Regions from separate parts of the Homo sapiens genome. Here all the other regions are reported to be linked to region 1. The links are microRNA targets in miRTarBase. Many come from high-throughput screens and were not tested one by one. Region 1 holds a microRNA gene; each other region holds the end of a gene's coding sequence.

Region 1 (7,000 bases):
GGAAAGGAGATGGGAGAGGAGAGACTGAAAGCGAGGATGGAGAGAGGGTGGGGAAGGCTCCTTATGTGTCACACTAAGAAGTTTGGGTTTTCCCTCTGTGGAAGGTGAGGTGCCATGGAAGGGTTTTGAGAATGGGAGTGGGATCACATGTAGTGGCTCACGCCTATAATCCCAGCACTTTGAGAGGTCAAGGTGGGAGGATTACTTGAGCCCAGGAGGCAGAGGCTGTGGTGAGCCAAGATTGCGCCACAACACTCCAGCCTGGGTGACAGAGGGAGATCCTCTCTCAACAACAACAACAGTTTGGTTTCATGTCTTGATATGCAGTGTGGGTGGCTCTATGGAGGATGGATTTGAGGGGGGCAAGACTACAGACAAGGAGACCAAGGAGGGAGATGTTGTGTTGGTTCTAGTGAGAGATGGTGAGGGCGGCTACAAGTAGGAAAGAGCATGGAATGGAGAGGACTTTGAACTTGACAGGTCCTGATAATTGCATGGACGGGGGGAGGGGGGTGGGGGAGGAACAGTCTTAGCTAATGCTGCCTCAGCTTCCCGAGTAACTGGGATTACAGGTGCACACCACCACACCTGGCTAATTTTGTATTTTTAGTAGAGATGGGGTTTCACCATGTTGGCCAGGCTGGTCTTGAACTCCTGACCTCAAGTGATCCACCTGCCTCAGCCTCCCAAAGTGCTGGGATTACAGGCGTGAGCCACCTTGCCCAGCCTAAAGAGGTTTTATAGATAAGAAAGTTGAGGCATAGAGAGGCTAAGTGACTTGGCTGAATGGCACATGGCTAGCAAGTAACCAACTGGGACTCACAGCCGTGTAGTTTAACTCCAGCGCCTGCTCTCATCATCACTGTGCCATGCCTGTCCTGACTGGTCCAGGAGGGCAGGAGAGGGGGTCTCGATGACCCACCATCCCCACCACTGCTGCCACCAGCAGGAATTTTACTTGGGTGACCGAGTGGGTGATGGTGCCATTGACTGATGATTCTAGAAGGGAGTGGAGAGAGATGCTGGTTTCCATATTACACCTGCTTAGTGTGATGTGCCTGTGGACACCCAGAGGAGGAAGGCATCTCAGGCTGTGCCCTTCCTCCTGGAGCCTCTTGTCACTGAGCCACAGGGCCTCTACACCAACACTAAATCACTATACTGCTTTCCATTTAGATGACAATTTGATTTAAACAAATTCTGGTGGTGCAGGGTCAAAATTTTTCATAATCTGAAGTGATTTTTCTCTGTTTCCAGTCCACTGACTGGATGGCAGATTAAAATGTGAGGGTTTGACAAAAAGATAATGGAGCCGTGCCAGCCTTTAGTGTTTCAGGCATAAAATTAAATTCAACATGGTATCATGCATTTGAAGACTTGTCATCATAAGGCTGGCCAGACAAATATGCTTTAGAGGGTTTGGTTTTGAGAATGAGTAGGAGAAATAAAATATGAAATATGATAATAGTGGAGACTAGACGTATTTTGAAAAACATTATCTGATGGTGTTAAGCCATCCTTTTTGAGCGCATTGTTTAATGCTGCCTTCTTTTCTGCCTGTTTGACCAAGGGACTCTGAAGTGTTGGACAGGTTCCACTACTGAAATATGCAAATTTAACATTCCCTCTCCCCACATCTACACCACCCCTTTCTTTCTTTCTTTTCTGTTTTTTGAGACAGTCTTGCTCTGTCGCCCAGGCTGGAGTGCAGTGGTGTGATCTCAGCTCACTGCAACCTCCGCCTCCCAGGTTCAAATGATTCCCCTGCCTCAGCCTCCCAAGTAGCTGGAATTACAGGCGTGTGCCACCATGCCTAGTTAATTTTTGTATTTTTAGTAGACACTGGGTTTTGCCATGTTGGCCAGGCTGGTCTCAAACTCCTGGCCTCAGGTGATCTGCCTGCCTCAGCCTCCCAAAGTGCTGGGATTACAGGCATGAGCCACCATGCCTGGCCCCTTTCTTTCATCTCTCCTAATTTTTTCGACATTCTCCTACCCATTTTCTCCTTTCCTGGGCCTTCAATTTGTGCCCACCTCCACCCCCATCCTCACCCCCCATCTTCTTGTTAGCTGCATAGTTTGGTCTGGCTATAGACTTTCCAAGTTCTGAAGGTAAAACTGACATCAAGTTCTTCCCATCTGGTCTACTGAGTGCACCCTGCAACCTTAGCCTAGGCACTTTGGCACCTTCTGTTTTAGCGGCTGTCTCTGTCCATGGTGGGCTTGGTGTCTTGTTGCTTCTGTTCCTCTGAGTGAAGTGTTCAAAGCCTCAGACTCCTGAGGCTCAGCTCTGTGCCCTGGCCTTCGAGGCTTGTCACTTCTGCCGATATAAGAAGTGAAATATAGGTCAGCCTCACAGATCCCAGTGTTAAAAATAAAAGCTTCATCCCCAGGCTCTGCAGGTCTGTAGATTGGCATGGGTTCCCCCACTTTCCAGCAACCACTCTTCTAAATTGCTTCTTGGAGCTTAGTACTGATGCCATCCGCTATGCAAGAGGGAACCTGAAAATAGAAGAGGAGCTGAGATCGTCTCCCTTGGCAAATGCCATTCCAAAATGTGAAGATTGCCTGAATGGAAATTGTAAATAGCAGCACTGAGCAGGTTTCCTCCCTGTCGGGTTAGGAGGGTGGGCTGCTGGTGAGGGGAGGGTGGGTCCTGGGGGGAGCCTGGAAGGAGTCCCTCTCCCTCTTAGGACCACCCAGACCCCTCCTGTGGCAGCCAAGTGACCACGCACTGAGATTCCTAAGTATTTTGATGAAAGGACTTCTCCTCCCTCTCTCTGCTTTCCCATTCTTAGTCCTTGCATTTGAGCTTTCTCAGAAGATTTAGCTGCTTTTCTGTGATATGAAAACTGAGGAGGTTGAAAAGCAGGGCCTTTGAATTTATTTTTAGTATCTGCACATTTCTCTCTTCCTGCATTCTCTCACTTTCTTCTCTCCCTTCTCCTTTCTCTTCTGATTTCCCGCTTTCTCTCCCTGCACTGTCATTCTCTTTTGCCCTTCTTAACTCCTGCAAAACGGGGAGATAAGTTTTCCTCCACATAAGAAGCCAGGGCCTCTGAGAAGCTTGTCTTTGAACAGATGCCTCAGCCTTGCCCCTTTCTCAGGTCTCATTTTTCGGGCGAGTCTGTGCTTGACAAGAGACTGCGTTATCTTGTGGGAGGACCCTAAGGAGCCAGGGTACTTGACATTTAAAGCTTTTCATAAACAGTGTCTTCAGTGCTTGGCAAACCTTGAACCCTCCCAGCTGGCAGCAACGAGGCTTTCTCATCAGGACTGGCTCAGCCTCGGATGTGACATTTTCCCAGGGCCTCAAGGAAATGGAATACGCCCTGTCTGCCTTTTAATCCCTCTCAGTTGGATTTTCATAGACTTCTGTCAGGGGGGTATGTGCTGGCTGCTTTTCCTATAAACTGGAGTCAGGGGAAAAGGGGAAGATGGCTGAGGGGGGAGGCAAATATGGATGCATTTAATACACATTTGGCAGGTCAAGCAGAAATATCATTGGTTACATAGTTTTTTGATGCTATCCTCCAGGCCAAATTAAATGACTTCTTTGGGAGTAGAGAAGGGCTTAAAAACAGTGATTTGGGTGACACCCTATGAACATTCTAACCTGAAACCCTTCCCCGCAGGTGACTCAGCCCACAAAGAGCCACACTCCTGGCAGATGTGGGAAATGGACACTATCACTGTCAGAGTCCACCCGCGTGACTCTGGGGCGCACTGCTTTGTGCCTTTAAATTCAGCCCTGCCACTGGCTTATGTCATGACCTTGGGCTACTCAGGCTGTCTGCACAATGAGCCAGTTGGACAGGAGCAGTGCCACTCAACTCTGGCCATACACAGAACCCCCCACCCCCACCCCAGGGAGCTTTTAACACACATAGCCATCTAGAGAATGTGGATTAATTTGGTCTCAGGTGAGGCTTGGGTGGCTGTAAAAGCTCCCCAGGTAACTCTCACATGAAGTAGGTGAGACATGCTCCCTAGACACATGTCTCTCAAACTGGAATGTGCACAGGAATCACATAGGATCTTGCTAAAATGCAGACTCCAGTCCTGTGGTTTTCAGTGGGGCTGGGGATTCTTCTCTTCCCATGTGCTCCTGGGCAAACTGATGGTGTGGGTCCCCAGAACACACTCTGCACAGCCAAAGTCTGGATGGTCTTTAAGGTCCCTGCAGTTCCTTACTGAGTTTTCTTGGTGAGGAGAGGGCAGGGAATTAAGTAAAAGATATATTTTAATGGTAGCAAAGAGGACCTCCCTTTTATCACTGGGGTAAAGTCATGTCATTTTTGGGAAAATGTGATGCAGTATTTGGTGGGTAGGATTCAATTTGTATCCATTTTCAACACTGGAGTAAGTTTATTTAGGGGGAAAAAGGGAAACAGATGTAGCTGTGTGTGTGAAGAATGGGGAAGAGAGAGAAGCGTGAAAGAACTGAGTGGATGTGTGTGTGCTCACAGGGCGAGGATTCCATGCAAACAAATACATAGGCTTCTCCAGGTCCAGTTTTGGTGAGGGGACAGGAAAAGGGACAGATATTGTTCAGCTGGGATTTAAGGTGAAGATCATGCTCCCTGGAACAACCCAAAGGCTGGAAGATTCCATCTCCTCAGCCCCATCTCTTTCTGGTGCTAAGCAGCCATTTGTTCCAATTATCCTTGAATTATAGTGACAGCTTTTGGTTTATGCAGGCCTTCAAATCATCCTAACCTAGTAGAAGAAGTAAAATGATGCCTTTATTGACAAGAACATTTCAGCTGGCTGGTTTTAAAAGACTCTCTTCTTCCCACCTATTCCCACGTCCCTGTGCTTCCACCTCACTAAGAGCCACAGACACCATTTTGGAGTGTCAAGATCTTGCCTGATTTTGCATATATATATATATATATAATTTTTTAAAATTCAAGGTCAACCTTGAGAGATATTGCTTGTATTCTGCCTTCTGTTTTCCCTAATCCTTATAGAACTACAAATTCCCATACATGAGCAGATTTTCCTGGTTTAAAATTATATTTAACTAAAGTTAAATACTTCAGGCCTTGTGATGGTGATTCTCCTGCCCACAGACTTATGGGGATTTCTTTTGCTTTAAAGCAGGTCTTTAACAGGGCAGTATTTCTTGCTAAAATCCACAATCCAGGGTTTTGTCACTGTTCTATTTTTAGAAATTCTTCCAATTTGTAGTCTAAAGGAGAGGAATGTTTTTCTAACAAAGATATTTTCCAATCTAGAGAAAAGAGGCTGGGCGTGGTGGCTCACGCCTGTAATCCCAGCACTTTGGGAGGCGGAAACTGGCAGATCACAAGGTCAGGAGATCAAGACCAGCCTGGCCAACATGGTGAAACCCCATCTCTTCTAAAAATACAAAAATCAGCTTGGCGTAGTGGCGCGTGCCTGTAATCCCAGCTACTCGGTAGGCTGAGGCAGGAGAATTGCTTGAACCAGGGAGTCAAAGGTTGCAGTGCGCGGAGATTGCACCAGTGCACTCCAGCCTGGTGACAGAACAAGACTCCGTCTCAAAAAAATAACTAACTAACTAAATAAAAGTAAAAGATTCAAAAGATTTTAAAGTTATTAATCCTTGTGCTCTGAAACAGACATTTATAACTTTAAAACAGCATATATAGGGACCTTACCTCCCTGACTGATGTACATAGGATTTGGCTTTTCTCAGTCCTAAGAGATTTAAAGATTTAGTGAAACATAAAGAACATATTTTAAGCAATATCAATATGCAGGCCCAATGTAAATGTCCCCATGAATGTCGAATGCAAGTAGTTAGTCCTCAAACTCCTCTTCTCTTAGCCGGGTATGGTGGTGCATGCCTGTAGTCCTAGCTACTAAGGAGGCTGATGTGGGAGGATTGCTTGAGGCCAGGAGTTAGAGGCTGCAGTGAGCTATGATCACGCCACTGCACTCCAGCCTGAGCGACAGAGTGAGACTCTGTCTCTAAAATACAAGTTAAATGAAAAACTCCTGTTCTGTGTCACACATTTGTTGATTTTGCTCATTTATTTATTCCACCGATACTTATTATGGGCTTATTGTATGCTTTATGATGGGTTTACACAGCTCTTTGTGAAGCCCTGAAGATACCATGGAAAACAAAAACAGACCTTGTTCTCATGAAATTTGAAGACTGGGGAGGAAGACATAGTCACAGAGGTTAATATGTAAGTGCTGTGAGAGGAGGGAACACGGATCTAAGAGCATATAACCAAGAAACCAGCCTAGCCTGGGCTGACTTGCTGAATGTTTCACTAGTTGGGGAACTCTGGGAAAGGTAAGTTCTTTGGCATTTGCTGCCCAAGGTTTAGAGGAACTCTGTGCTAGAGAGCCCTTGGCAAACAACTTCACTTTGGCCTTAAACATGAGATTCACTACCTGTAAAATGGACTTCTGAGTCCTCCCTACCTGTCCACCTAGCAGACCGTTTCGTCAGAGCTTCCTCTTCTCCAACAGTGCTTTCTTTTAAACAGACATAATGAACTGCCTTTTGGTTTCATGACTTTTTTTTTTTTTTGCTACAAGCAGCTCTCTTGTGGCTGGCAAAAGTAAAGCCATATTCTCGAGGACTCAAAAGACTCTCCATGGCTTCCCTGGATCTTGAAGAACATTTTTTCTCCAAGTAATTTTATTAGCCTGGGTGGACACTTGCAGTCAGTGTCACCATTACATTCTTAATCTTTACAAAGTGTGCTTATTTGCTTCTAATTTTGAATGTCTTTTTATTCCCTTTACTTCTTGCATGTGTGAAGAAGTAATTGTTACACAGATGTTTTGGAGATAGTGTTTGGTCCTGTGTTACTCCTGCAGGGTGTAGGTAGCTCCTCCTTGTTCTCAGTCTGTCGACTCAGCTACTTTAAACACAGAGGATGGGGAGATGGATCTCAAAGTTATCAATGTGGAAGACCATGTCTGTAAGTGCCCCGGCCCTCCCAATGGCCATCCCATGCCAACTCTGGCTCTCAGCCACCTTACTTGATAATATT
Region 2 (7,227 bases), not on the chromosome of region 1:
CCAAGGTGATGGGGGGTATGGGGAGCTCCTTAGAGGGAGGAAGTCCTCTCCTGTGTGGAAGCCAACTTCTCCACACTCACCCTGCAGACTCCAGCACCTATGCCACTTTTCTCTTCAATGCCTTTGACACCAACCATGATGGCTCGGTCAGTTTTGAGGTGAGCTGGGCGAGGTGGGCCAGGGAAGCCTGTTTCCTGGAGTTCAGGGCCAGGATCTCCAGGCCAAACCCAGAGAAGGAGTTGGGTGAAGAGTACCCGAGGACACAGCTCCCTCCTGCCTCCTTCCCAGGACTTTGTGGCTGGTTTGTCCGTGATTCTTCGGGGAACTGTAGATGACAGGCTTAATTGGGCCTTCAACCTGTATGACCTTAACAAGGACGGCTGCATCACCAAGGAGGTGCAGGGCAACTGAAGGGCTGGGGGTCTGTGGCGGTGATGGGGGTGGCGTGCAGAGGGTGATGGGAGGGAAATATGACCCACATATGCCCACAAGCAAGGGATCAAGGGAGGCTGGAGGCTCTGAGGAAGGATCCTCTTCTCTCTTGGCCTAACAGGAAATGCTTGACATCATGAAGTCCATCTATGACATGATGGGCAAGTACACGTACCCTGCACTCCGGGAGGAGGCCCCAAGGGAACACGTGGAGAGCTTCTTCCAGGTACTTGGGAGTGGGTAGGCTGGAGGGCCCTGGAGTGAAGGGAAGAAGGCCAAGAACCAGCAGGGAACTCACCTGACTTCTGTCTGCCTCTCTCTTGCCATCCCTCCTGTTCTCCCTGCCTGACCACCTTCTTGCAGAAGATGGACAGAAACAAGGATGGTGTGGTGACCATTGAGGAATTCATTGAGTCTTGTCAAAAGGTACAGCTCCCTGCCCTCTACATTACCCTGACCTGGACTCAGGCCTGATTTAGTAATGCAGGGAAAAGCTTCTTTGGGAAGAATACCACCTTCCCACCTCACCCCCATATTTCAATCCTATTCCTTTGTGGGAGGCTTACCCCTTCCCTACCTCAGGTCTCTCTGGGCATCTCCTTCCTCTGTGCTTTTGAATGTCCCCGTCTGTGACTCAGTGTCCCTCTCACTGTCTCTGATAAGCTCCTTCTCTTTCTCTCTCTTCAATCTGCCTCGCTCACATCATGGCCACAGGATGAGAACATCATGAGGTCCATGCAGCTCTTTGACAATGTCATCTAGCCCCCAGGAGAGGGGGTCAGTGTTTCCTGGGGGGACCATGCTCTAACCCTAGTCCAGGCGGACCTCACCCTTCTCTTCCCAGGTCTATCCTCATCCTACGCCTCCCTGGGGGCTGGAGGGATCCAAGAGCTTGGGGATTCAGTAGTCCAGATCTCTGGAGCTGAAGGGGCCAGAGAGTGGGCAGAGTGCATCTCGGGGGGTGTTCCCAACTCCCACCAGCTCTCACCCCCTTCCTGCCTGACACCCAGTGTTGAGAGTGCCCCTCCTGTAGGAATTGAGCGGTTCCCCACCTCCTACCCCTACTCTAGAAACACACTAGACAGATGTCTCCTGCTATGGTGCTTCCCCCATCCCTGACCTCATAAACATTTCCCCTAAGACTCCCCTCTCAGAGAGAATGCTCCATTCTTGGCACTGGCTGGCTTCTCAGACCAGCCATTGAGAGCCCTGTGGGAGGGGGACAAGAATGTATAGGGAGAAATCTTGGGCCTGAGTCAATGGATAGGTCCTAGGAGGTGGCTGGGGTTGAGAATAGAAGGGCCTGGACAGATTATGATTGCTCAGGCATACCAGGTTATAGCTCCAAGTTCCACAGGTCTGCTACCACAGGCCATCAAAATATAAGTTTCCAGGCTTTGCAGAAGACCTTGTCTCCTTAGAAATGCCCCAGAAATTTTCCACACCCTCCTCGGTATCCATGGAGAGCCTGGGGCCAGATATCTGGCTCATCTCTGGCATTGCTTCCTCTCCTTCCTTCCTGCATGTGTTGGTGGTGGTTGTGGTGGGGGAATGTGGATGGGGGATGTCCTGGCTGATGCCTGCCAAAATTTCATCCCACCCTCCTTGCTTATCGTCCCTGTTTTGAGGGCTATGACTTGAGTTTTTGTTTCCCATGTTCTCTATAGACTTGGGACCTTCCTGAACTTGGGGCCTATCACTCCCCACAGTGGATGCCTTAGAAGGGAGAGGGAAGGAGGGAGGCAGGCATAGCATCTGAACCCAGTGTGGGGGCATTCACTAGAATCTTCAATCAACCTGGGCTCTCCCCACCCCACCCCAGATAACCTCCTCAGTTCCCTAGGGTCTCTTCTTGCTTGACTCAATCTACCCAGAGATGCCCCTTAGCACACCTAGAGGGCAGGGACCATAGGACCCAGGTTCCAACCCCATTGTCAGCACCCCAGCCATGCGGCCACCCCTTAGCACACCTGCTCGTCCCATTTAGCTTACCCTCCCAGTTGGCCAGAATCTGAGGGGAGAGCCCCCAGAGAGCCCCCTTCCCCATCAGAAGACTGTTGACTGCTTTGCATTTTGGGCTCTTCTATATATTTTGTAAAGTAAGAAATATACCAGATCTAATAAAACACAATGGCTATGCACAGGCTGCCGTCTCTGCCTTTTGTCCCTCCCACCTACAAATACTACACAACCCCTAACGAATGCACCTGCAGCCTTTTAGATCCCCAAGAAAGTGGCTTTCTTTTCCATAGTTGGCCATACCTTGGCATGAGACTGAGACACAGGCTCTGGAATGGTTGGAAACCCACCCAACCTCAGGCCCCCACATGAATCTCCCTCCCACACAGCCTGAGAGGAGACAAGGAAGGAAGGACAGGACACTGATGTCCCGAAGACTGTGCCAAGCAAGCTGTTTTTTAGCTGACATTCTTACAAGTTGAATCACAGATTTCTAATTTACAGACTTTTTAGTTAATCTCAAAGTGCTTTCTTTTGAGGGGCCTCCCTTTAGTTTCTTTCTTTTTTTTTTTTTTCTGAGACAGAGTGTCTCTCTTTCGCCCAGGCTGGAGTGCAGTGGCGTGATCTTGGCTTTACTGCAGCCTCCGCTTCCTGGGTTCAAGCAATTCTCCTGCGTCAGCTTCCCGAATAGCTGGGATTAAAGGCGTGCACTGCCATGCCCGGCTAATTTTTGTATTTTTAGTAGAGACAGGGTTTCGCCATGATGGCCAGGCTGGTCTCAAACTCCTGACCTCATGTGATCTGCCCGCCTAAGCCTCCCAAAGTGTTGGTTACAGGCGTGAGCCACCATGCACAGACCTTCCCTTTAGTTTCTAATGAAAGTTCCTTTGTGTCAACATTCCAACCTTGCCTCCAGTATAGATAAATATTTTTTGTGTCCATACCCCAGCCAGGAATGATGGGGGAATGAGATGGAGTGGACCCAGCGCAGGTCACCATGAGGCAGATGGCACAAAGGATGACATGGACTTTCTGTGTGTTCCCACTCTTTCTTTGTTCTGCTCCTGCAGAGGGACCCACCAATGGTTGGTTCCTCTCATCCTTTCTCTGGGTCACCATTATGGGTGACTAAGCTTCACCATCCATAGGAGGAGTAACAGGCCTTATCCTCCCTCGTGATGAAGTCAAGGGGAGAGATATGTTGTCCAAAAAGCAAAAACTCACTTTTAGCGTCCATTGTTTTATCATCTGTGTTCCCTGCTTATATCATCAAAGAACCATCTGCTTCTTGGGCCCTTGGGTTTCTTTGAGTCATCAACATAAAGATCTGATAAAAGCTGTGGGCCCACTATCCAGAAGAAAGAAAAAGGCAAGAATTCCCATGCATTTTTGTATCCCTGAAGCTCATCTATGGGTCCTAAGTTAAGAACCTGTGATCTAGAGTGAGTGCAGCGGCTCACGCCTGTAATCCCAGCACTTTGGGAGGCTGAGGTTGGTGGATCACTTGAGGTCAGGAGTTCAAGACCAGTTTGGCCAACATAGTGAAACCTCATCTCTATTAAAAATGCAAAATTAGCTGGGCATGGTGGCGCATACGTGTAATCCCAGCTACTTGGGAGGCTGAGGCCAGAGAATCGCCTGAACCTGGGAAGCGGAGGTTGCAGTGAGCCGAGATGGCACCACTGCACTCCAGCCTGGGCAACAGAATGAGACTCTGTCTCAAAAAGAAAAGAACATGTGATCCAGTCTAACCCTCCATTTCATAGAAGAAGCAGGCTCAGAGAAGGGAGACTTGCTCAAGGTCACTCAGTGAGTTTGTAGCAGGACTGAGGCTAGACTCAATCCCTCAAGTCTGTCAACAGTGGCCTTTGGGCACAGTCAAGAGTTGTATGTGGGCCGGGCGCAGTGGCTCACACCTGTAATGCCAGCACTTTGGGAGGCTGAGGTGGGCAGATCACGAGGTCAGGAGATTGAGACCATCCTGGATAACACAGTGAAACCCTGTCTCTACTAAAAATACAAAAAATTAGCCGGGCATGGTGGCAGGCGCCTGTAGTCCCAGCTACTCGGGAGGCTGAGGCAGGAGAATGGCGTGAACCCAGGAGGCGGAGCTTGCAGTGAGCCGAGATCGTGCCACTGCACTCCAGCCTGGGTGACAGAGCGAGACTCCATCTCAGAAAAAAAAAACCAAAGAATTGTATGTGAAGAGTGGATGCTGTGCATGTTATGCATAATCCAAGCAAAGTGACACTATGACAGGCTCTCACAATGCCCTCTGCTTTTCCTTTATGGCACTTCTCAGTTTGTAACCATATACTTACTTGGGTAATTATATACTTGTCTTCTCCTATACACTGTAAGTTCCTGAGGGCTCCCTGAGTGCCTGGACTAGGGTTTTTTTCTTCACCATCTTATCCATGGGGCCTGGCACACAATAATGGATGTAAGGACATCCATTATTCAGTAAATAATAATGGATGAAAGTACATGGTGAATGTGTGTATATAATTACATAGGTATGGAGACAGTTGTTTTTTCTTTTGAGACTGGGTCTCACAATCTCAGCTCACTGCAGCCTCCACCTCCCAGGCTCAGGTGATCCTCCCACCCCAGCCTCCCAAGTAGCTGGGACCACAGGTGCACACCACCACGCCTGGCTAATTTTTTGTATTTTTGGTAGAGACAGGGTTTCACCACATTGCTCAGGCTGGTCTCGAACTCCTGAGCTCAAGCAGTGTGCCCACCTCAGCCTCCCAAAGTGCTGTGATTACAGGTGTGAGCCATCACGCCTTGCCCAGTTTCCATTTTCTAAGGTAGATTCAAGTTTAGTGGGATTGAAGCAGAGAACTGCTAGTAAGCTGAGAAGTGCCCCAGAGCCCAAGCCTACAGATGAGATCCAGAAAAAAAACAGTAGGTTGGCATTCAGATTGTCACCCAGGCTGGAGTGCAGTGGAGTGATCTCCACTCACTACAACCTCCGCCTCCCGGGTTCAAGCGATTCCCCTGCCTCAGCCTCCGAGTAGCTGGGATTACAAGCACATGCCGCCATGCCTGGCTAATTTTTATATTTTTAGTAGAGACGGGGTTTCGCCATATTGGTCAGGCTGGTCTCGAACTCCTGACCTCAGGCGATCCACCCGCCTCAGCCTCCCAAAGTGCTGTGATTACAGGTGTGAGCCACTACGCCAGCCTCAGATTATTTCATCTTGGCCATTGGTTGGGTTCTGAGTGTTGTCAGCTGCTCCATCTCAAAATACTCTCCTTTCTTGCCTTCCAGTATTTCCTACGCTCCTGGTTTTCCTCGTGCCCTTCTGGCTACCCCTTCTCAGCCCTCCCTTATAGACTCATCCTTCTCAACTTGAATTTTAAATCTTAGGCCCTACAGCTCAGACCTAAGCCTCTTTTCCAAACCACCCCTAATCCCATGGCTTTAAACACCGTCGATATGCAGAGGCTCCTAAGTTTATATCCCCAGAACTCTCTCTTCTGAAATCCAAAACCTGTCTATCCAATTGCCCCCCGCTTTTTTTTTTTTTTTCCTGTCACCCAGGCTGGAGTGCAGTGGTACAATCACAGCTCACTGCAGTCTCAAACTCCTGGGCTCCAGCGATCCTCCCACCTCAGCCTCCAGAGTAACTGGGACTACAAGTGTGTGCCACCCACACCCTGCTAATGTTTTAATTTTTTGTAGAGATGGGGTCTCACTATGTTGCCCAGGCTGCTCTTGAACTCCTGGGTTCAAGTGATCCTCCTCCAGTCTCAGCTTCCCAAAGTGCTGAGATTACAGGAATGAGCCACCGTGCCTAGTCCAATTGCCTATTTGATATATTAATGTGGACCTGTAATGGTTGAACTTAACATGTTCAAAATGGAGCTTAGATTCATGCCTTTCCAGTCTTTCCCATCTCAGTAAATGACACCAACATCCATCTAGTTGCTCAGGTCGAAATTTAGAAGTCTCCATTTCTTCCTCTCCTTCATTCTCCCTCCACCCCCATTTAATCAATCACCAATTCTACCACCAAAGGTACACCACCTCTCTCTCTCTGATGCTGTTTCCTAGCCCAAGCCACTATTGCTACTCACCTAAATTACTCCTTCCTATTTGTCCATCTGAAGTAGCTCCTCCTTGATGCAGTTGGCAGGTTTCTTCCCTTAATAGCCCTTACCACAAACTGTGAGTTCCTATGTGTGTACTGAATTTGTTATTGTCTGGTTCTCCAAACAGAATGTAAAATCTGTGAGGGCAGGGCCCTATCTCATTCATTCCGCAAATATTCATCATAGGTCTACTAAGCACTGTTACTGTTGTAGGTGTTGGGGGTGGGTGGAGAGAGGTGTGGTATGGTGAGAAAGTGTATAGCAGTTATGTGGCAAGAACCACTCTTCAAATTTGAGGGACACAGAAATGGGGCAAACCTTCCCTATGAGACTGGACTATGGAAAGTAGGAGAAATTGTGGCTGCTGACTTGCTGGCAGTGATTAAGGCAAAGAGGAAAATGTCATGAGACTAAGGACATCAGCCAGAATGACAGCCCCCAAATCTCCTGTCAACCTATAAGGAAGAAGCTGAGGCAAAATGAATACAAGTAGAGAGTTTATTATAAGCTTGAGGATTGCAACGAAAGAGCATAGATTCAAGTTGCCCTAAATAGACACTCTGATTAGCAGCAGTTACAAGTGGATTTTTATAGGGAAAGAAGAGGCAGTTCCTGAGTTATTTACCAACAGTTTACATTAAAATAACATAAGCTATTGATTGGCTATACATTGTTAAACTATAGGGTGTGTGTTAGAATGTCCAGTACAACATTATTAGGTTAATTTATAGCTAC
Region 3 (7,000 bases), not on the chromosome of region 1:
TAGATTGGCTCCTGAGGCAGCGTAGTGTTGTGAGGAGTGACTAGGCTGGGCAGGGGCACAGCACAGTGGCAAGCATGGTGATGGGGGCCAGGGGAGAGACGATGCTGGCCTGGCCAAGGCAGTGGCAGGAGGACCAAAGGAAGTGGACAAATGCCACCCTGCAGAGGATGCGGCGGACGGAAGGAATGGTAGGCTCTTTGCTGAGATAAAGGACCCAGTAGCAGATCTTTGGTGCTTTGGCCTGTAAGGCTGAAGTGTGCACAGGGCAGTGTGGGAGGTGCCCACAGCAATGCAGCCAGGCCCTGGCTCTGTGTGCCCTTGGGTGTCATTTAAGCTCCTTGAGCCAAGTGTTCTCATCTGCCAACTAACAAGAATGCCAGCCTGCTTCGGAGAGTGAGTGTGGAGCCCACCCTCAGGCAGGGAGCACCCTGTAGCCTGCTTCGGAGAGTGAGTGTGGAGCCCACCCTCAGGCAGGGAGCACCCTGTAGCCTGCTTCGGAGAGTGAGTGTGGAGCCCACCCTCAGGCAGGGAGCACCCTGTAGCCTGCTTCGGAGAGTGAGTGTGGAACCCACCCTCAGGCAGGGAGCACCCTGTAGCCTGCTTCGGAGAGTGAGTGTGGAGCCCACCCTCAGGCAGGGAGCACCCTGTAGCCTGCTTCGGAGAGTGAGTGTGGAGCCCACCCTCAGGCAGGGAGCACCCTGTAGCCTGCTTCGGAGAGTGAGTGTGGAGCCCACCCTCAGGCAGGGAGCACCCTGTAGCCTGCTTCGGAGAGTGACTGTGGTGCCCAGCCCTCAGGCAGGGAGCACCCTGTAGCCTGCTTCGGAGAGTGACTGTGGTGCCCAGCCCTCAGGCAGGGAGCACCCTGTAGCCTGCTTCGAAGAGTGAGTGTGGAGCCCACCCTCAGGCAGGGAGCACCCTGGGGACACACACATGTCTGCATCCTCAGCTCAGAAACCACCATCATCAGAGCTAATGTCTGTTGGTACCTCCACACCCTTTGCATGATTAGCTTCATCTTCACCGATGAGGAAACAGAGGCAACTTGGAGGTTAAGAAACTCACCAAGGGTCTCGCTTTCATCCCCCTGCCGTGCTCCCAGTGAGTGTGTGGCCCGAGAAAACATGCAGAGCGATATGGTTCAAAAGCACTACAGATAAATCAAGATGCAACCCTAAAACATGTTCAAATAACCTTCAAGAAAGTAAGAAAAGAGAAACAGGAAACAGAACGTGAGTAATCAAATGGCAGACTTCGGTCCATCTGCAGGGCATCGCTCCGAGCACCTGAATGTGTTGGGTAGGTAGGAGGAGGCACGTATTGGCTACTACCAGTCTGGAGCAGTGTGGGCAGTGGAGGGAGTGGCTGGGAGCAGCAGGCTGCAGGCAGGCTCTGAGTCTGAAAGGCTCCCAGACAAGGGCAAGAGCTCACATAGTAAAGGAGCAGTAAGGGGGCATGGTTTTTTCGGGAGGCTTTGCCAAGTCTGGCCTGGTCAGGTAGAGCATTTTGAAAGGTCTGAATGAACCTCTGATGTTTATGTATTGAGCACCTATGGTCGGTTAGATGAGAGTCTACTGAGCACCTGGGAGGGAGGCTTCAGACAGGATTCCAGTCCCGTGGGCCTGCTGTGGCACTGCCGAGAAGACAGCGTTCAGTGTCAAATCCCTACCCACTCCACCTGGGGGTGGAGCCAGGTTGGGGCCAGGGGGCTAGTTATGTGACCTTAAGCAAGAGCCTTCCTCTCTTTGGCCCAAAGTTGCCTAGTTTATAAAATGCAGCTATGACGGCACCCAGCAGGTCCTGGGCGTGGCCTGCCCTGTATGGCCTAATGCCCCACCTGCTGAGCTGGGCGCCCTCAGGGCACAGAGGGCCCTCTCTTTTGTCTCTTGCTAACCTGGCGCTGCCATTACATCTCCCCTTCATCCTGTAGCTCTTTCTCACACTGCTATTCCACAGCAGAGTCGGGCTGGTGATCAGGCATGCCAGGGCCCTGGTGGGAAGGGATGGGAATGCATTTTGGCTGCTAGCTGGCTTGTCTGCCCAGTGCCCCCATGGCTGCCACTTACATCTGGCACAGAGTTTGGATTCAGACTCAGGCTAAATCCTAGCTCCTCCCCTTCTGAGCTGTGTGACCTGGGGCAAGTCATTCCCCTCTCTGAGCCTATCTCCCTGTCTATCAAATGGGCACAACCACCACAGACAAGGTGGTGTTGAAGAGAGGATTCTGCGTGGTCCTTGAAAGATATTTCTAATTCAGCTAAACCCCATCACCTCCAGCCCCAGAGTTACCTTTTCTGACCCAGAGCTGTTCCTGCCTGGCAGACCGGGGGACCTCTAGTTAGTGCCAGTTTCCTCAGAGCATTCCTGATGGCTCAGGAAAAGAATAACAGATGTAATTAACTCCCAGTGACTGGCAGCATCGTGTTTTTATCTGGGCTGCGTCACCATGGCAGCCTCATGGCAGGGTTGTCGAGGGGGCGGGCAGAGCTATGGTTCCTGCCATTGTCTGTTCTGGAACGCAGGCCCAGGAGAAGGGGACTGGCAAGGGCACCAAGTGGCACGTGGCTGAAGGCAGCCATGGAGTCAGACAGGAGCCATCTGGGGAGAAGTGTGGGGTGGCCATGGCCTGGCTTCCCCCCAGCCTGGGGCTCAGGCTCCCTGTGGCTCTCGAAGCAGTGTGTGTGTGCCTCGGGCACGCGGAGGGTAGGGTCCGTGGGGCTCCTGGAAGAGGCCCACAAAGTAGCCCAGGCAGCGCTACCCCCCACCCCACTCAGGCTAGAGTTTTGTGGCCAGGCCTGGGTTCAAATTATGGTGCTACCACCTGCCATCTACACAGCCAGTTGTTCCCCCAACTCCTCGTCTGTAAAATAGGAATCATTCCAGTTACCCCAAAGGCTTTCGTTCAAACCTGTGTGTATAAGGCATTCAGGAAAGGCTCAGTTCTGTTCTGTGGGGGCGGTGAGCAGTCACCTGCCACCCTTCACTCTCAGAGTCAGGGCTCCCTCCTACCTCCCTCTTAGGGTGCAAGGTTCCCCCTCTCACCCGCAGCTGTGGAGAGGAGGAAGCGGAACTAGAGATGCCCATCTGGAGTGAGTGCAGGACCAGGTGGGTACGAAAGACTAGCTTCCAACCCTCATCTAGTTTTCCTCCCCTCCGCGAGAGGGAAAGGGAGACGGCGGCCTGAAGACAGAGGCAGAGCCAAGTGGGGCTGTGCAAGGGCAGGAGGCGGGGAAGCGGAGTTGGAGCAGGCAGGGCGCCTGGAGGAAAGGAAGAGAGTGTGGCCCACGCCCGGCGCGGCGCGCTAGGCTCAGACAAAGGCAGGGCCGGTGGCACGCATTACCAGTCGGAGCCACCCGCCTGAGCCCCCCTACGGGAGCGGCGGGAGACCCGGAGGGCGCGGTGCGGAGCCAGTTGTTCCGGGCTTTGGGCAGCCAGGGGCTGCCAGGCGTCTGTACAGGGCGTCGGGTGGCTGTCTGTGGGGCTCTAGGAGATGTACCACCCTTTCCCCGCCGCACAGCAACGGCGCCGAGACGCCTCTTCAGGGACCTGGTGCGCACAGGCTCCTGAAACCCTTTGGCCCCGGGACTGCGGATGGCGAATCTCTCGTTCGGACTCAGAGCTGGAGTCCGTCCTTCGCGCGCCCCCTGCTGGCCCGCCTCGGCTCCCCTCGGCGCCCGGGCTCCGCGGCGGCGGCCGGGGCTCAGATCGGGGAAACCCTACCGGGGAAACCTCGAGGCGTGACGTCACCCTCCTCGGTGACGTCACCGGGCCCCCGGGGAGCGCGAGGTTCCCACGGAGGAGGCTTTCCCCGGACTGCGCAGGGCGCGGGCGGGGGCCGGGAAGTCGTTGGGGGCCGCGGCGCGCCTTCACTGCGCCCCGTGTCTGCCCTACAGGTCCCGCGCGGCCCCGGGTGAGGCACGCCCGCGCGCCCGCCGGCGCCATGGGAAGGAGCGGGCGCCGCTGCTGTCCCCCGCCGGCGCGCGCACGACTTGAGACCTGCCACGGGCAGCCCCCGGCCGCGGGTCCCCGAGTGACGCTGGCGGCACCTGAGAGTGTGGCGCGGGCCCGGGGCCACGCAGCGGAGCCCAGTGTCCAGTGAAGCGTCTGAGGACCCGCCGCCCGTGCCGCCGCCATGGTGATGTCCCAGGGCACCTACACGTTCCTCACGTGCTTCGCCGGCTTCTGGCTCATCTGGGGTCTCATCGTCCTGCTCTGCTGCTTCTGCAGCTTCCTGCGCCGCCGCCTCAAACGGCGCCAGGAGGAGCGACTGCGCGAGCAGAACCTGCGCGCCCTAGAGCTGGAGCCCCTCGAACTCGAGGGCAGTCTGGCCGGGAGCCCCCCGGGCCTGGCGCCGCCGCAGCCACCACCACACCGTAGCCGCCTGGAGGCGCCGGCTCACGCGCACTCGCATCCGCACGTGCACGTGCACCCGCTGCTGCACCACGGGCCCGCGCAGCCGCACGCGCACGCGCACCCACACCCGCACCACCACGCGCTCCCGCACCCGCCGCCTACGCACCTGTCGGTGCCGCCACGGCCCTGGAGCTACCCGCGCCAAGGTGAGTACCGACCTCCGCCAGGGGGCGATCCGGGCCGCCGGAAGTGGGCGGGCGTTGGAGGGCTCGCTGCTTACCCTCAGGGCTTCCATCCGCAGCCTCCGGGAGAACACGGGCGGCGGCGGGCTCGGGTTCGGGCTAGGGCTGGGGCGCGGGCGGCCCCTGGCCGGGGCCTCTGCGAGAGGCTGGGAACCGGCGGCCTCACCTCCTCCGACCGCCTCCCACTCCGCAGCGGAATCGGACATGTCCAAACCACCGTGTTACGAAGAGGCGGTGCTGATGGCAGAGCCGCCGCCGCCCTATAGCGAGGTGCTCACGGACACGCGCGGCCTCTACCGCAAGATCGTCACGCCCTTCCTGAGTCGCCGCGACAGCGCGGAGAAGCAGGAGCAGCCGCCTCCCAGCTACAAGCCGCTCTTCCTGGACCGGGGCTACACCTCGGCGCTGCACCTGCCCAGCGCCCCTCGGCCCGCGCCGCCCTGCCCAGCCCTCTGCCTGCAGGCCGACCGTGGCCGCCGGGTCTTCCCCAGCTGGACCGACTCAGAGCTCAGCAGCCGCGAGCCCCTGGAGCACGGAGCTTGGCGTCTGCCGGTCTCCATCCCCTTGTTCGGGAGGACTACAGCCGTATAGAGGGGCGCCCGGCGCCCCGGGCCCCACCGGCGGACTCCTGGCCTGACTGCGGGGCTTTTTAAATGCTTCCCTGGACTGCGGGGAGGGGCGGGGGGAGGGAGGGATTTCTTATCCCGTTTGTTACATTTTGAGGATAATAAAGGTGTGTGATCTGGTTTGGTACAAGCGGAGGGTGCACCGGCTGCTTTCGCCCAGGGTTCTGTGTGACCAGACAAGCCGGGGCCTTGGCGGGAAGGACCCTCAACGTGCGTTTCCGCCACAACAGAACCTAAGGGTACAGCACTAAGTCTAAGACCAACCCTTCTCCGGTGGTTGTAGGTGCCAAGCGGCTTCCCCTGGGAGCCTTAGCCCCTAGCACCGCCCCCCCACCCCGCCCCCGCCTGGCGGGCCTTGGAATTAGGGTGAGGACGCCCCCTGGTGGCAAGGAGGTGCTGCGGCCTCGGAGGTGGGAGGAGTTGGGAACCTGGGTCAGGGCAGGCGGCAGCCCGAAGGGATCTGGATTTCTTTATTAACAGACATGAGCACGACCCGTTACAGAAGTTTGTGCTTTCCAAAAAAAAAAAAAAAAAAAAAAAAAAAACAGTTACTAAACGTGAAAAAGGAACCCAAGCAAAGAGGAAGGAGTTGGGGAGGGGCCACCAAAGCCCCTGGGCCCCATCCATAGCCCTGACCTGAACCGCGCCTAGGGCCTCCAACCTGGGACCTGCCCGGCAGGAGACGGGGGGTAGCCGAGGGGCCCCAGCTGGGCCTGCTACTTCCTTTGGGCCAGACAGGAAGGGGTCAAAAGAAGGGCGGGGAGGGGGTCCCAGGGAGCCAGAGCCCACGAGCCATTTATTGCCATGTTTTAAAATTCGTGCAAAATATCTGAAGCCCTGGACAGAGAATACAAAGTGATATTTTCCCAAGAAACATAAAACTAGGAAAAGAGGTGGGGGACATTTTCCCACCAGAGCTCCCCCCACGCCAGGCCCCAAGCAGGGTGAGGCCTCCAACCCGGCCAGCTGAGCAGGGAGGACTAAGAGCTACAATCTGGACCAGGGAAGGAGGGGTGGAATTTGCAACAGCGTCTCAACTACCAACGAGAGGAAAGCCAGTCAACTGTACAAGTCTCCTATCAACTTTTTAAAAAAAGAGAAAAGCTGTAAAAGTCAGGCCCTGTGGGTAGGGAAGCGGCCAAGTCCCCAGCCAGGGCCGGAATCCGGAGTGGGTGCCAGGCGGAGCTGCTGCGAATGCAGGCACGGCGGGCCGTCTGGCCAGAGGCTGATGCAGGTGGGCGGCCTTGGCAAGGGTAGCCTAGGGCTGGCGCCACCGCTAATCACCACCCTCGAAGCCCTCCTCCTCTTCTGGAACTGGGTCTGCATCCCAGCATGTGATGTCGATCTCTGTGGCGTTAGAAAGGGAGAGGAGTTAGGGACCTAGCAGACCGCTTGTGTCCCCAGCCTCTGTGAGCGGTGGGTAGTGGTGGGGTGGCTACCCACACTCAAATCCAGCCCCCGCACCCAAATTCCTCCCCATCATCCAGCCCAGTACTACCTGGAGGCTTGTTGTAGAACACAGGAGGCGGAGCCTTGGCACAGAGCTCTTCCGATTGGGCAAACTCCTCCTCCTGTGATTGACTGAAGTACCCCTCACTGGCCTGCAGGGGAAAGCATCAGGTCACTTGGCCCCACCCAGCAGGACTGGGGCTGACCTATCAGGCCTGAGCCCGTTTCCCCAGCAACCAATGATTCCATCAGTGGTTGCCAGGGAAACAAGGATGCCTGCCTTGGGAACAAAAGCAGAGCCGGCCCAGGGAGGGAGGGTGGGATGGACTTCCC
Region 4 (7,227 bases), not on the chromosome of region 1:
AAGCTAGCCCGCCAGGCCTCCATAGAGCTGCCCAGCATGGCTGTGGCCAGTACCAAGAGTCGGTGGGAGACGGGTGAGGTACAGGCTCAGTCTGCGGCCAAGACTCCGTCCTGCAAGGTAAGGTCCCCTCCAGGGGCAAGGCTGGGCTGCAGAGCCAGCGCCTGGGAGTTTAGTAGCAGGCCGGGTTTCCTTGTTAAGACAAGCATGGGACTGTCCAGGATGAATGTGGGTATACAGAACCCTGAGGTATTGCAGTAGGGTTGGGTTCACCCTTGCTGGTGTAGAAGGCTGTGTTGTCCGAGTGGAGGTAGATGGCACCTTTATTCCTTTCCCTGCCTCTTCCACTGGGATCACACAGAAAAAGTTTAGGTAGGCAGATCCCAGGCCCCCTGGCCAGGTAAGGCAAGGCGGGAGAGAAGGGCCCAGGGCTTCTACTCCCCAAGATCCAGGGGTCTGCCCTTGTGACATACCCTTCTGCTGCCCCCAGGATATTGTGGCTGGAGACATGAGCAAGAAAAGCCTCTGGGAGCAGAAGGGAGGCTCCAAGACCTCATCAACAATTAAGGTAGAGCCTAAATGTGGTTGGTGCAGGCAGGGTGGGTGCAGCAGGGGAGGGCAAAGAGGGACTGTCCTCTGTGCATCTGGGAGGGCTTCCCAGAGGCGGAGGCAGCATCATCTCCTTTCTGCTGCTCTCACCTTCACTCTTGGTCTCCTTTCCCAACAGAGCACCCCATCTGGGAAGAGGTATAAGTTTGTGGCCACCGGGCATGGGAAGTATGAGAAGGTGCTTGTGGAAGGGGGCCCGGCTCCCTAGGCGTCCCATCTCGGTGAGTCCCTGGCAACTCACAGAAGGGGATGAGGTGCACACACGTGCACTGTGCTGGGAACTTGGCAACCTGGAGGCTGCCTGGAGCCCTGTTGCAGGCTACAAGGGTGGACTCCGAGTTGGCCAGAACCCAGACCAGCTCAGTCTCCCAGTCCTGTGCAGATGCTGCCTCTCTCACCTGATACCAGATTCAAACTCTCTGCTCATTTCACTAGAGTCAGCCCGGCTCAGCCACTGCTCCACTAGGGAAGCTCAAGGCTCCCATCTGGGACTCCCCAAAAGCCACAGCAGGGCTCGTGAGGGAAGTGAGGGGCAGCCTGGCCACCACAGGGCTAGCATTGAAGGAAGCAGGTGGCATGGAGCCCAGGTTCCCTGACCATCTGTATGCTGAGGGTCCATAGAGGGGCAGGAACTTAGGTCCTACTCCCTGTCCCAGCCGAGAGCGATTCAGAGGTCCTGATGCCCTCCCCATCCCATGCTGCAGACAGAGCAGTGCCACTCCTGCCATGGTGAGACACACATTTATTAGTGACCTGGGCCCCAGGCTCCATTTCCAGCACCCATCACACCACAGGGTGGGGCAGCTGTCCTCCTACCATCTTCCCCTGCCAAACCCTGACTCTCAAGCAGCTGTGGCAGAGGCTTTTTCTGGTACCTCTGTGTCCCTCTCCTGTGGTTGGCCACCCCCACCAGAGCCTGGCTGACTGCTGAGTAGGCCCCTCCACTCTCCCCACCAGGGCCACAGCCCCTTCTCTGTCCCGCTTGGCCAAGCTGTTCCCATAGGGTTGGGACTGAGGGCTCCCTCCTCATCCAGCTGTCAAAGCCTGGGCATGGCCAGTGCTGAGACCCTCGCTGTCCCACCAGCGAATCCCTCGAGTTCTGCCCCCTCAGGCTGTCAGCCCAGGTAGGGGAAGCAGAGGTGGGCCGAGAGAGAGGTCACGCTGGGCCCTCCTCCACCCCTGATGAGCCCCTCCCTGCCTGCCCCTGAGCACTTGTATTGGTGCCAAGTCCCACGCTGGCTGAGGGCTCCCCCCTGCACCCTAGTCCCAGGATCTGGCTCTGCCATCAGGAAGCACAGGCAGCAAAACTGCTGACTGCTCCTGACGCCGATGGCCAAGCCAGCCTGACCGCACCCATGCCTCAGCAAGCAGAGATCTGGCCCCAAACCTTTGACAGCAAAAGGTGACAGCAAAAGGGAGGATCAGTGAGAGGCCCAGGCCCCTGAGGAGCCTGGGCTAGGTCAGTAGATGCAGTCCTCTGCCATCTTACCTAAAGTTTTCATCCCAAGGCCCCCATCCTACATCCCGACGCAGACCCCTTCTCTGTTCCCCTCACACCACTGCAGCCCAGGGGCTCCAGCTCGTCCTCTCTGCCCCGTCCACCTGACCACCCTCCTAACCATGCAGACTTCCCTCAGCACCCCATGTGCCCTTCCCAGGCTGCCCTGCACCCCATGCCCCTTGGGCCCTGGTGCATCTTCATGCAGCAACTATGGGCCCCCAGCTAGAGCCTCAGCCCCTTCTTCTGTCCATCCCATGGTCCTGGGCTCTGGGGGCCATTCTGGCCACTTCACTGGAGCCTCCAGCCAGTCGCTGTGCGGTTGAAGTTCTTGGGCTGGGGGCTCAGCTCCAGGATGGAGCGGACTGTGGGAGGGGGCCGGGTGGCCTCCTGCAGCTTCCGGGCGTTGAAGCGAGGCCGGTACAGGAAGGGCAGGCGGGTGAGGCTGGCTGGGGTGTGCTCCCCACCGCTGGGCCCTGCCAGGCGCCCTTGGGCCTCCGCCACTGACATGCGGTACAGCACGGCATCCCACATCCTGGAGGTCCGGGAGGCGGGGGCCCGGGGTGCGGTGAGGGCGGGCACCTCCTGCTCTGTGGGGGCAGGCACCTCCTGCTCTGTGGGGGTGGGCACCTCTGGCTCCAGGCTCTGCCGCGGCTCTGGGCACGGAGGCTCTGGGGCCTCCTCCAGCAGCTGCTTCTTGAGCCACGTCCAGCCACTGAGCCGGGGCTTGGGTGCAACTTTGGGGACAGGGCATGGGTGAGGGCCTGATGGTGGGGTAGGGGATGAGGCCCAGGCAGGGCTGGACACTCGCTCGGCCTCAGCGGCGGGGCCAGCCATCGGGGGCTCCTCCAGGTGCTCTCTGCCAGGGCCCATGGGGACCAGGCTGTGCGGTGAGGACTCCAGCGAGCGGCAGGTCGGGGCTATGGGCACCACAACCCTGGCACTAGCCTCTCTGGGCACTGAGGCCTGGAAGCCGGGTGGCGGCCGTGGTACAGGGGGCTCCTCAGGCAAGGGACTGGCAGCCTGGACTGTGGTGGGCAGTGGGCGGATGTGAGCCACTGGGACCAGGGGCTGGGCCCTGGGGGGACTTGGGGTGGCATCTCCATCCTGGCTGTTGGATCCCACTTCTGGGGCTGTCCTGGGAGGCTCAGGGGTCCCATTGTGTGGGGATGGTGCCAGCTGGATGTGCACCTGGGTGACGTGGGTGCCCCCACCCCCAGAGACAGGGACGAAGCCACTGGGGGGCCGGGTAGGTTCTGGGGCCGAGGCTACAACCTGGGGCCCCATGGCCCTGAATTGAGCAGCTAGAATCCTGCGCTGGGTGAGGCCGATGGAGAACGTGGACTTCTGCAGGGGTGATGCCACGTGGTGGATGATGGGGGTGTGCGGGGAGCGGGGTAGGGCAGCCACCATGCGGGGAGCCTCGGCGGGGCGTGGGGCTTCAGGAAGGCGTGGGGCTTCGGCGGGGTGCGGGCCCTCAGCAGCGTGCGGGGCTGTGACCTCCTGGTCATGGCTGGCCTCACTCACGGGGGACAGGGAGGTGCGGAAGGCCCTGGGTGGAGCGAGGTGTGTGCCTCCCATCATCTTCTTCCGGGCTGCCTTCCTCAGGAGCTTCTGCAAACGCAAGTTGTCCTTCCCTGGCTTGGGCAGCAGGGGCGGTGGGGGTCCAGGGGTTCCCTGGAGGCTTGGGCCGCACACCTCGGGTGCCATCGACGCAGCCGATATGAGCATGACTGTGTCCTAGGGTGGGAGGGACAGTGGTCAGGCCAGCCCTCCTCCCTCCTGAGGTGGGAGGCCTGTGTCTCCTGTGGTCCAAGGAGGACCTGGGGCCAGGGGTGTGGAGGCCTGAGTATTCTGCTTCCTGAGCACCCAGAACCTGCCAGGGACATGCTGAGCTCGACTGTGCCTTGGGGACTTTGGGGTGGCCCCACCATCACCCTAGTGTAGAAATGAGGCCACAGAGGCCGAGTCCCTCCAGGGATGGGGCTAGAACCTGCCTCCAGGGCTCTGTCCTCCATGCCACCCCAGCACAAAGCAGGCCCCAAGTACACAGCCTGGGTCAGGCCGCAACACCGTGTGGGCTGGGGTGGGAGACGGAGACGCGGGTGAGCCCCAAGTGACAGGCATGCCCCTGGCCAGCTGCTGGCCAAGCCCAGGGCTGGAAGAGCGGCTGCCCCCAGACACGTGAGGGGCGCCCTGTTGTCGCCGGCTCAACCACAGGCGCGTCCGCTGCGAGCCAGCGGTGAGGGGTGGCGGCCAAGAGGCTTGGGAAAGCCGAGGCTGCATCATCAGAGGTAGATTGGCCGGAAGGTGGGAGCAGTTTTCGCTGAGCTATGCTAAATGGGATATTCCCGCAGACCTCCTGTCTGGGGTGGCCCGGCCAAGCCGCCCACCCTGGTTTCTGGGCACCACGTGTTTGCAAGGACATTGACAAATGGCATCTGTCCGAGCCAGAGGCTCTCTGGTTTGGGGAAGGAGGGAGTCCTGGGGGCTGCCGCTGGTGGGGGCTGGCTCTGCCAAGGCAAGAACAGAGCTGCTGGAGGGGTGGGGGCGGAAGGAGCCTGCTTAGGACTGCTCTCAGCTACCGGCCTCCTCTGGATGACGGGACTGCAGGAACCACGAGAACCCCAGTTCTAGCTCCCAGGGTGGGCAGGCTGCTTGGCAGGCAGGCCGCCTTCCCTCCACCAGGAGTCAGGTCTCCAGCCAGAGGTCCTGACCCAGGGCACAAGTGCTCGCACTGGGAAGCAGGCCTCTGAGGCAGGACGTCTTCTCCTGTGGTGGAGTGGGGGTGTGGGCAGGGCAGGGAGGCCAGCAGAGAGAGGCTCGGGGAGCAGGCTCTGTGGGCTTGCAGGAGGCAGGTCTGTGGCCCCTCCCTGGACCCTAGCCTAATGCCCCCTGCACCCCATGCCTATGTTCCAGCTTCCTGGGTCTGCAGGTCCAGCCGGCTGGCACCCTCCATGTACCCAGGGGAGATTCCAGCCAGACACCCGCCCCCCGGCCCTGGCTAAGAAGTTGCTTCCTGTTGCCAGCATGACCTACCCTCGCCTCTTTGATGCCATCCGCTGCCACCTCCTTTTGCTCCTGGACCCTTTAGCCTCTCTGCCCTTCCACTCTCTGACCACCGCCCCCGCCCTCCCCACCCAGCTCCGCTTCTTGTTACTTGGGGGAGGAAAGAAACTCCTGATCATTGGCCAAAGGGACTTACCCCTGGAGAGGCCAAGTGCCTTCTAGGAAGTTAGGAGGTTGAGGCACAGCCTGTGCAGAGAGGGTGGGTCACCCCCCCAGATCCAAGGAGAAACTGCAGGTCAAGGGCTGATAACGGCCATGCAGGATGCTTGATGCTGCGTCCCCCGCTGCTTGCCGCCCCCCACCCCGCCATTTTGTATAATAAAGCTCCCTGTGTATTCTCATGTGCTGGCTGTCTTGTACTCACTAAGGGGGCAGGGCTGGCCAGGATGGAAATGTTGGGCCAGTGGCCAGCCCATTCCCACACTGCACAGCATGCTGTGGCCTCTGGGTTCAGGCAGTCTGACCTGTCTCATGGCCTTTGCAGTATAAGACGCCAGGACATAAGCTCTCTGGTGGCCTAAGTCAGAGCACACACAATGGGTGGGGTCCGGGCTTCCTTTTCCAGAATGTCTGTGATATCCCTACCCCAACCAGGACTAGCCCAATATAAACTTCTGTGCCTTGACTTCGCACCCACTGAGGGCAAGATCCACCTCGGGGCCTCCCCCAACACCACACAGGAGGTGCTCAGTGAAGGTTTGGAAAACAGACAAATGGGTGGATGGGTGGGTGGATGGATGGATGGGTAGGTGGGTGGACGAATGGATAGATGAATAGATTAATGGATGGATGAGTGGATGGATAGGTGGGTGAATGGATGGGTAGGTGGGCGAGTGGATGAATGGCTGGGTGGGCAAGTGGGTGGATGGATGGATGGGTAGGTGGGTGGACGAATGGATAGATGATCAGATGAATGGATGGATGAGTGGACAGATAGGTGGGTGAATGGATGGGTAGGTGGGTGAGTGGATGAATGGCTGGATGAGCGAGTGGAGGGATGGGTGAGTGGATGAATAGGGGATGGATGAATGGATAGAGGGATATGTGGATGAGTGAATGAGTAAGTGGGTGGGTGGGTGGATGGATGGATTGATGGATGGATGAGTGGACGGATAAGCAGGTGAATGGATGGGTAGGTGGGTGAGTGGATGAATGGTTGGGTGGGTGAGTGGAGGGATGGGTGAGTGGATGAATAGGGGATGGATGAATGGATAGACGGACATATGGATGAGTGAATGAGTAAGTGGGTGGGTGGGTGGATGGATGGATTGATAGATGGATGGATGAGTGGACGGATAAGCAGGTGAATGGATGGGTAGGTGGGTGAGTGGATGAATGGTTGGGTGGGTGAGTGGAGGGATGGGTGAGTGGATGAATAGGGGATGGATGAATGGATAGAGGGATGTATGGATGAGTGAATGGGTAAGCAGGTGGGTGGATGGATGGACTAATGGATGGATGAGTGGGTGAATAGGTGGGTGAATGGATGGGTGGGTGGGAGGATGGCTGGCTGGCTGGCTGGCTGGCTGGATGGATGGATGGATGGGTTAGTGAATGGATAGGTGGATGGATGAAAGGAGGGATGCATGAGTGGATAGGTAGATGAGTGGATGGATGGATGAAGGGATGGCTGGATGAATGGACAGAGGGAGAGAGGGGGGATGGAGGGAGGGATGAGTGAGTGAATGGGTAGGTGGGTGGGTGGATGGATGGATGGAAGGAGCGATAAATGAAGGGATGGGTAGGTGGTTGGATGGATGGATAGATAGATAATGGAGGGATTGATGAATGAAGGGATGGATGCATGGATGGGTAGATGGATGGATGGATGAAGGGATGGATGAGAGTGGATGGACAGGTGGATGGATGGATAGGTGGATGGATGAATGGAGGGATGGATGTGTGGATGGGTAGATGAAAGGATGGATGAAAGGACGGATAGATAGATAGGTGAGTGAGTGAATGGATAGGTGGATGGATGAATGGAGAGATGGATGAGTGGATGGGTAGATGGGTGGGTGGATGGATGGGTGAAGGGATAGATGAATGGATGG

The links. The annotated mature microRNA hsa-miR-575 reads GAGCCAGUUGGACAGGAGC and lies in region 1 at 3,802-3,820, shown strand. An mRNA with a match to its seed (bases 2 to 7 or 8) in the 3' UTR can be bound and repressed. Matches are read on the target gene's strand: a 7mer-m8 pairs with bases 2 to 8, a 7mer-A1 pairs with bases 2 to 7 and ends in A, and an 8mer does both.
Region 2: the mRNA of KCNIP2 is a reported target of hsa-miR-575. Seed matches in the 3' UTR shown: 7mer-m8 at 1,608-1,614.
Region 3: miRTarBase lists DBN1 as a target of hsa-miR-575. Seed matches in the 3' UTR shown: 7mer-m8 at 6,272-6,278.
Region 4: miRTarBase lists LSP1 as a target of hsa-miR-575. Seed matches in the 3' UTR shown: 7mer-A1 at 5,105-5,111.

Annotation. Positions count from the first base shown.
Region 1 is chr4:82,750,172-82,757,171 of GRCh38, reverse strand. MIR575 (microRNA 575) reads left to right here and starts at 3,742; the gene lies at 3,742-3,835. The region is part of intron 1 of SCD5 (stearoyl-CoA desaturase 5); the gene reads left to right.
Region 2 is chr10:101,821,320-101,828,546 of GRCh38, reverse strand. It overlaps KCNIP2 (potassium voltage-gated channel interacting protein 2), which reads left to right. Exons shown (of 10, transcript NM_173191.3): 6 at 88-158; 7 at 289-396; 8 at 554-658; 9 at 796-858; 10 at 1,147-2,573. The coding sequence ends at 1,194. KCNIP2-AS1 (KCNIP2 antisense RNA 1) reads right to left here. Exons shown (of 3, transcript NR_045118.1): 2 at 608-687; 3 at 1-366. Among named protein-coding and RNA genes, the nearest start is that of KCNIP2-AS1, 5.9 kb to the right of the region's middle. RefSeq lists enhancers at 1-961, 3,461-3,755.
Region 3 is chr5:177,450,939-177,457,938 of GRCh38, forward strand. It overlaps DBN1 (drebrin 1), which reads right to left. Exons shown (of 15, transcript NM_001363541.2): 14 at 6,717-6,819; 15 at 5,672-6,565. The coding sequence ends at 6,495. PRR7 (proline rich 7, synaptic) reads left to right here. Exons shown (of 4, transcript NM_030567.5): 2 at 3,018-3,102; 3 at 3,891-4,556; 4 at 4,786-5,348. The coding sequence starts at 4,130. The coding sequence ends at 5,183. Among named protein-coding and RNA genes, the nearest start is that of PRR7-AS1, 6.5 kb to the left of the region's middle. RefSeq lists silencers at 2,927-3,016, 3,527-4,136, 3,586-3,817, 4,327-4,876, 4,967-5,106 and 1 more and enhancers at 3,422-4,122, 4,370-4,664, 6,229-6,929.
Region 4 is chr11:1,886,750-1,893,976 of GRCh38, forward strand. It overlaps LSP1 (lymphocyte specific protein 1), which reads left to right. Exons shown (of 11, transcript NM_002339.3): 8 at 1-117; 9 at 488-565; 10 at 725-827; 11 at 5,024-5,514. The coding sequence ends at 814. It overlaps PRR33 (proline rich 33), which reads right to left and starts at 5,146. Exons shown (of 1, transcript NM_001395380.1): 1 at 1,329-5,146. The coding sequence starts at 3,835. The coding sequence ends at 2,396. RefSeq lists a silencer at 458-624.